Homo sapiens: one gene and its partner. Changing the gene in region 1 together with any one later gene gives a genetic interaction. Each region holds a gene or a part of one and is shown on either strand. Other genes may lie near its edges.

Region 1 (3,500 bases):
TTCTAGTCGGGTGGGATGAGAGACGGAGAAAAGAAATAAGACACAGAGACAAAGTATAAAGAAACAACGGTGGGTCCAGGGGACTGGTGCTCAGCACACCAAGGACCTGCACCGGCACCGGCCTCTGAGTTCCCTCAGTTTTTATTGATTATTATTTTTCATTATTTCAGCAAAAAGGAATGTAGTAGGACAGCAGGGTGATAATAAGGAGAAGGTCAACAAATTACATGTGAGCAAAAGAATGTATATCACGATTAAGTTCAAGGGAAAGTACTATGCCTGGACGTGCACGTAGGCCAGACTTATGTTTCTCTCCACCCAAACATCTCAGTGGAGTAAAGACTACAAGGCAGTATCACTGTAAACATGTCTCGCCTCCCGCCACAGGGCAGCTTTTCTCCCATCTCAGAGTTGAACAAATGTACAATCGGGTTTTAAGCCGAGACATTCAGTTCCCAGGGGCAAGCAGGAGATAGTGGCCTTCCTCCATCTCACCTGCAAGAGGCTTTCCTCTTTTACTAATCCACCTCAGCACAGACCCTTTACAGGTGTCGGGCTGGGAGACAGTCAGGTCTTTCTCATCCCACGAGGCCATATTTCAGACTATCACATGGAGAGAAACCTTGGACAATACCCCGCTTTCAAGGGCAGAGGTCCCTGCGGCTTTCCACAGTGCATTGTGCCCCTGGTTTATTGAGACTAGAGAATGGCAATGACCTTTACCAGATGTACTGCTTGTAAGTATTTTGTTAACAAGGCACGTCCTACACAGCCCTAGGTCCCTTAAACCTTGATTTTATACAACACATGTTTTTGTGAGCTCCAAGTTGGGTCAAAGTGGCTGGGTCAAAGTGGCTGGGACAAAGCTACAAATCAACAACATCTCAGCAAAGCAACTGTTTAAAGTACAGGTCTTTTTCAAAATGGAGTCTCTTATGTCTTTCCTTCCTACATAGACACAGTGACAGTCTGATCTTTCTTTCTTTTCCCTACAACTTATTATTATTTTTGAGACAGAGTCTTGCTCTGTCACTGGCCTGGAGTGCAGTGGCCCGATCTCGGCTCACTGCAACCTCCACCTCCGAGGTTCAAGCAATTCTCGTCTCAGCCTCCCAAGTAGCTGGGATTACAGGCACCTGCCACCACATCTGGCTAATTTTTTGTGTTTTTGTAGAGACAGGGTTTCACTATGTTGGCCAGGCTGGTCTTGAACTCCTGGCCTCTTGATCCACCCGTCTCGGCCTCCCAAAGTGCTGGGATTACAGGCGTGGGCCACACCGCGCCTGGCTTAAATGATTTTTTAAAACTAAGTGGCTTAATATTCTGCAATTTTAATCTGAGAGGGGTGGAACAGAAAGCCCCATACCTCATCAGAACCTGGGAGTTGATGAGAAACCATTTGATGACAACCTCCTAGGGGAGATGGGGAGGGAAGTGGGAGATGGCCTCATAGCAGCTTCTGGCAGACCTTCCACCCTCGTGTTCCAGGAGGATTAAACAAGCCTTTCAGCCACAATTCGGTAAGGTGTGGCTCAAGCCATTGTCTCCTTGGATATATTCAAGGCTCTCAGGGAACACTGTTGATAGTGGTATTGGTATTATACTGAAACTTTGTGTTGAGAACCAGGGTTTTGAGAACCAGGGTTTTCACTATGGCAAAAGGAAGATACAAGTAAGGAATGGAGGCATTTGAATAGGGAGGTGACAGTACAAATTACTGATTTAAGGCCAGGCATAGTGGCTGATGCCTGTAATCCCAGTTCTTTGGGAGGCCAAGGCAGGAGAATTGCTTGAGCCCAGGAGTTCGAGACCAGCATGGGTGACATGGCAAAACCCTGTTTCTACAAAAAACACAAAAATTAGCCAGGCATAGTGGTGCTGTCCTGTAGTCCTACCTACTCAGGAAGCTAAGGCAGGAGGATCTCTTGAGCCTGGGAGCCTCTTGAGCAGAGGTTGCAGCGAGCTGAGGTTGTGCCACTGCACTCCAGCCTAGGCAACAGAGCGAGCCCGTCTCAAAAAAAAGACAAAGAAATTTAGGACAGTATGCAAGATTTGGCCTGGATTCTTCTGAGGATGTGAAGTAATGGAAACAGTAAGACTGTTCCAGACTAGGGGAAGACTAGAGACCTAATAGCTGGATTCCATGTGATCTTTTGTTGGACTTTGGGATTGGAGGTGAGAGTAGAGAAGGCATAATGCACGTTTTTGAGACGAGGGAAATGTGAATATAGCCTGTATGCCTACACTCAAGTCTGAAGACATGTAAACCATGTCTATACTAACCAGCCAAATATTTGAACACTAAAAGGAAGAATTTTCTTAATGTGGTAATGGTATCATGGTTGTATAGAATGTTCCTCCTCTTGGGAGATGTGTGTTGAAAATAGGGTTTGACGTCTAAACCTATTTTGTTTTGGCAAAAAGGACGTGTGTCTGTACAAAAGAAGTGGAGCCAGTATGGCAAAATGTTTACAAGGACTCTGGGTGAGAGGTACATAGGTGCTTACTATACTGTTTTGTTTCTGAATTTGGAATTTCTCAAAATTAAAAAAATATCTACTGAGGAGCTTTTCGTTTTAACTGGTGGGGAATGGGTTCTGGGTGGTTTTGCCCCTTTTCTTTTTAGATTCAAGAAATCCATGGTGAAAGGTTTGGATTCCTATGAAGAAAAGGAGGATAAAGTGATCAAGGAGGTAAGTTAAAGTAGCAGTCCCTCACCCTTTTTGCACCAGGGGCTGGTTTCGTGGAAGACGGTTTTTCCACAGATGGACCCAGGCAGGGGATGGTTTCAGAATGAGACTGCTCCACCTCAGATCATCAGGCACTAGATTCTCATAAGGAGCACGCAACCTAGATACCTTGCATGCCCAGTTCACAATAGTGTTTGTGCTCCTATGAGAATGTAACACCACCACTGATCTGACAGGAGCTCAGGCGGCAGTGCTGTTGCAGCCTGCTTCCTGACAGGCCACAGACCAGTACTGGTCCACGCCTGGGGGTGGAGGGCCCAAGTTAAAGGAAAGGCCTCTGAAGAAACTGGCCCCCATGATCCTGTACCTGTCTAAGCAGCCTCTCTCCCACAGATGGCAGCTCAGATCCGTGAGGTGGAGCAGAGCCGACAGGAGGTGGTTCGGTCTGTCTTAGAGGTTGGTTTCCCTCGGAGGATCCAGACCAGTATCCAAATCCACTGATCCCTGGCATTCCCAGGTCCAGCATTTCATGGACTAGTGCTTCTTCTTCTTCTTTTTTTTTTGGAGACAGAGTTTCGCTGTGTCACCCAGGCTGGAGTGCAGTGGCACGATCTCGGCTCACTGCAACCTCCACCTCCCAGGTTCAGGTTCAAGCGATTCTCCTGCCTCAGGCTCCCGAGTAGCTGGGATTACAGGTGCCGCCACCACGCCTGGCTAATTTTTATATTTTTAATAGAGGTGGTGTTTCACCATGTTGGCCAGGCTGGTCTTGAACTCCTGACCTCAGGTGATCCACCCGCCTCAGCCTGC
Region 2 (3,500 bases), on another chromosome or scaffold:
TATGCTCCAGGATGCACTAACTTCCTTTTTCTGTGGGTAATCTGGGTAGTACTTGTGATGCTGGTAAAGATGATGATGATGATACCAGAAACTAACATTTATTGCACACTTAATAAATGTGTGCTAGACACTGTGCAATATATTTATATCCTTATAACAACAAGGTGTTGGCAATAACATCATTCCCTATTTTACAGATAAAGAAAGTGAGACCCAAAGATATAAAATCATTTGCCCAAGATCAGCTAGTATGGGGGCAGAACTAGAATTCAAACTAAAGAAGCTTTTAATCATCTACACTGTATGCTATATGGAGATCTATTTTCTAAAAGCTCCCATGTGAATATGATATATAGCTGGGTTTCAGAACTACTGCCAATTGTAGTTCTAAAAGTGCAAGTAAAACTATCTTTTTACATAATGTCTACTATTGGATGTTTAAAAATTTTTATTTGCTTTTGAGACAGGGTCTCATTCCGTAGCCCAGGCTGGAATGCAGTGACACGATCTCAGCTCACTCAACCTCCACCTCCTAGGCTCAAGCAATCCTCCCACCTCAGCCTCCCAAGTGGCCAGGACCACACGCATGCACCACCAAGCTCGGCTAATATTTATTTATTTATTTTATTTTTTATTTTTTCAGATGGAATTTTGCTGTTGTTGCCCAGACTGGAGAACAATGGCACGATCTCAGCTCACTGCAACCTCTGCCTCCCGGATTCAAGCAATTCTCCTGCCTCAGCCTCCCAAGTAGCTGGGATTACAGGCGTGCGCCAGCCACCACACCCAGCTAATTTTGTATTTTTAGTAGAGATGGGTTTCACCATGTTGGCCAGGCTGGTCTTGAACTCCTGACCTCAAGTGATCCACCAGCCACGGCCTCCCAAAGTGCTGGGATTACAGGCGTAAGCCAACATGCCCGGCCACTTTTTTTTTTTTTTTAATAGGGATATAAATCTTTTTCTTCACTAGACCCTGCTTCTAGGTGGAAGGGTCAGACTCCAGCAGGCCAGACACGGGAGCACCAAGGTAGGAAGGAGGAGGATACCTCATAGCCACCAGTCAACAGAATGTATTTAATAGTGACAGTACTGAAACCAGATTCTAACACATCCTAGAATAAATCACTGGAAGTATCCCCATTGGATTTTTGTTAAAAGACAAGAAAAAGCATCTAAAGAGAAGCAACCTATTATTAATGGGACATTAATCAAAGCACTAACTTGATCTTTTAGTAGCATTATCCCACCACTGGACTGGATAGTACAAATCTCTCGATGTTTGTTCATGGCAATCACCAGCAAGCCATCCATCACACGTTCTTCTCGTTCATTGGGATCCACCAATAAATATGTTCTGAAATGAATGTTAAATGGACCTGAACAAATCTGAGACCGAATGCTTACCATTTCTTGGGTAATGAATTTTTAAAAGATGGCATCAATAAAGTCAACAGAGAATAAAGGTCTGAGCCTACGGATTTGGGTCACTGAAATGGGGAAAGAGACAAGAAAATTATTGTGTTTATGAACACAAATGAATGCTAAGTGGGTATCTCTAGTTATTACAATGAAATCACATTAAGTTCAGATTGGATTTACTTAAATGATATATAATCTAAACCTAATGCTATCTCTTTGATTAAATGACTTCTGGCTCATTAATAAAAACTTAGATAATGTTAAATTGGTTAACCCTAAAGTTGCCCTAATGTCCTGTACTCCAAAGTTCTACTGCGTTCTGCTAATGGCTCATGAAAAAAATACTGTCTATTTCTGCACTGTCCGGTACATTTGCCAATAGTCACCTGTGGTTACTGAGCCCTTGAAATGTAATCAGAGTATGTAAAATATTGGATTTCAGAGACTTAGTGGAAACAAAAGAATGTAGACTATCTCATGAGTAATTATTAAAATACTGATTATTTCATTAATCATTTTATTTCATTAACGTGAAAATATATTAATTAAAAATATATAAAAATTAATTTTACCTTTTTAATGTGACTACTGGAAAATATTAAATTACACATATGAGGCCAGGCATGGTGGCTCATGCTTGTAATCCCAGCACTTTGGGAGGTCAGGACTGCAAGATCACTTGAGCTCATGAGTTTGGGACCAGCCTGGGCAACAAAGTGAGACCCTGTCTCTACAAAAAAAATTTTTTTAAATTAGCTGGGTATGCCACACACCTATAGTCCCAGCTACTTGGAAGGCTGAGGTGGGAGGATCACTTGAGCTCAGAAGTAGGCTGCAGTGAGCTATGATCACACCACTGCACTCCAGCCTGGGTGAGAGTGAGACCCTGTCACAAAAAAATAAAAAAAAAATTTAAAAAGTAACAAATGCTGCGCATGGTGGCTCAAGCCTATAATCCTAGCACTTTGGGAGGTGGAGATAGGCGGATCACTTGAGCCCAGGAGCTTCAGACCATCCTGGGCAACGTAGTGAAATCCCATCTCTACAAAAAATAAAGAAATTAGCTGGGCATGGTGTGCACCTGTGGTCCCAGCTACTCAGGAGGCTGAGGCAGGAGAATCACTTGAGCCTGAGAGGTTGAGGCTGCAATAAAACATGATCACGCCACTGCACTCAAGCCTGGGTGACAGAGGGAGACCTTGTCTTAAAAAAAAAAAAGAAAAGAAAAGAAAAAGAAACAGCCAGGCATGGTGGCTCATCCCCGTAATCCAGCATTTTGGGAGGCTGAGGTAGCTAGATCACTTTTGAACTCAGGAGTTCCAGACCAGCCTGGGCAATATGGCAAAACCTCTTTTTTACAAAAAAAATACAAAAATTAGCTAGGCATGGTGGTGCATGCCTGTAGTCTCAACTACTCGGAAGGCTGAGGCTGAAGAATTCATTGAGCCCAGAAAGCAGAGGTTGTAATGAGCAAAAATCACGCTGCTGAAATCCAAATTGGGCAACAAAGCCAGACCTCATCTCAAAAAAAAGAAGAAAATAAGAAAATTATATATATGGTTCACATTTTATTTCTACTGGACAATGCTGGCCCATTTTCCTCTGATAAAACTCTACACTTACAATCACTAAAACTTGTAAGTGTTTCTCTAGTCCTTGTGCACAACACTGTGTGAAATATTTTTATCTTCCCTTGTTTCTAAAGGAATTTAAGGCTCAAGTTTTCATTTGAAAGCACCATTAAATGGACCTGAAAAACTCCAAGTTTTCTGCCACAGGAGGATTTAGCAGTTAAGTAATGAAAACGCTGGAAAACTTAAGAACATTAGATTTTTTTCCTCCAGTCTGTGAACCATCCCCCCTTGTAACCGACTCCTAGAACTACTCCATCTAATATGTTCCAAAGTCCCCTATCTTCCAATAACCCACAGTAATTCTCACCCCACTGTCCCAAATTAGAGCCTAGCATATAATTCTCTTAACCACTGTACAGCCTTAGGAAACATAAAACACTACCATGCCATAGTAAATTCCTAAGTTTATAAGTATCCCATGAAAAGAAAAATGTTGGGAAGTATC

Evidence for each region. Genes that interact genetically often act in the same process or in processes that back each other up.
Region 2: changes in CENATAC (region 1) and EXOSC9 together harm fitness less than expected from each alone (positive genetic interaction), as found in Homo sapiens cells (one large-scale study listed by BioGRID).

Annotation. Positions count from the first base shown.
Region 1 is NC_000011.10:119,008,138-119,011,637, forward strand, and holds part of CENATAC (centrosomal AT-AC splicing factor), read left to right. Parts: intron 1-2,626; coding exon 2,627-2,693; intron 2,694-3,083; coding exon 3,084-3,146; exon of another isoform or gene 3,147-3,174; intron 3,175-3,500. UniProt on the Homo sapiens protein: Component of the minor spliceosome that promotes splicing of a specific, rare minor intron subtype. Negative regulator of centrosome duplication.
Region 2 is NC_000004.12:121,807,823-121,811,322, reverse strand, and holds part of EXOSC9 (exosome complex component RRP45), read right to left. Parts: intron 1,357-3,500; coding exon 1,224-1,356; intron 1-1,223. UniProt on the Homo sapiens protein: Non-catalytic component of the RNA exosome complex which has 3'->5' exoribonuclease activity and participates in a multitude of cellular RNA processing and degradation events.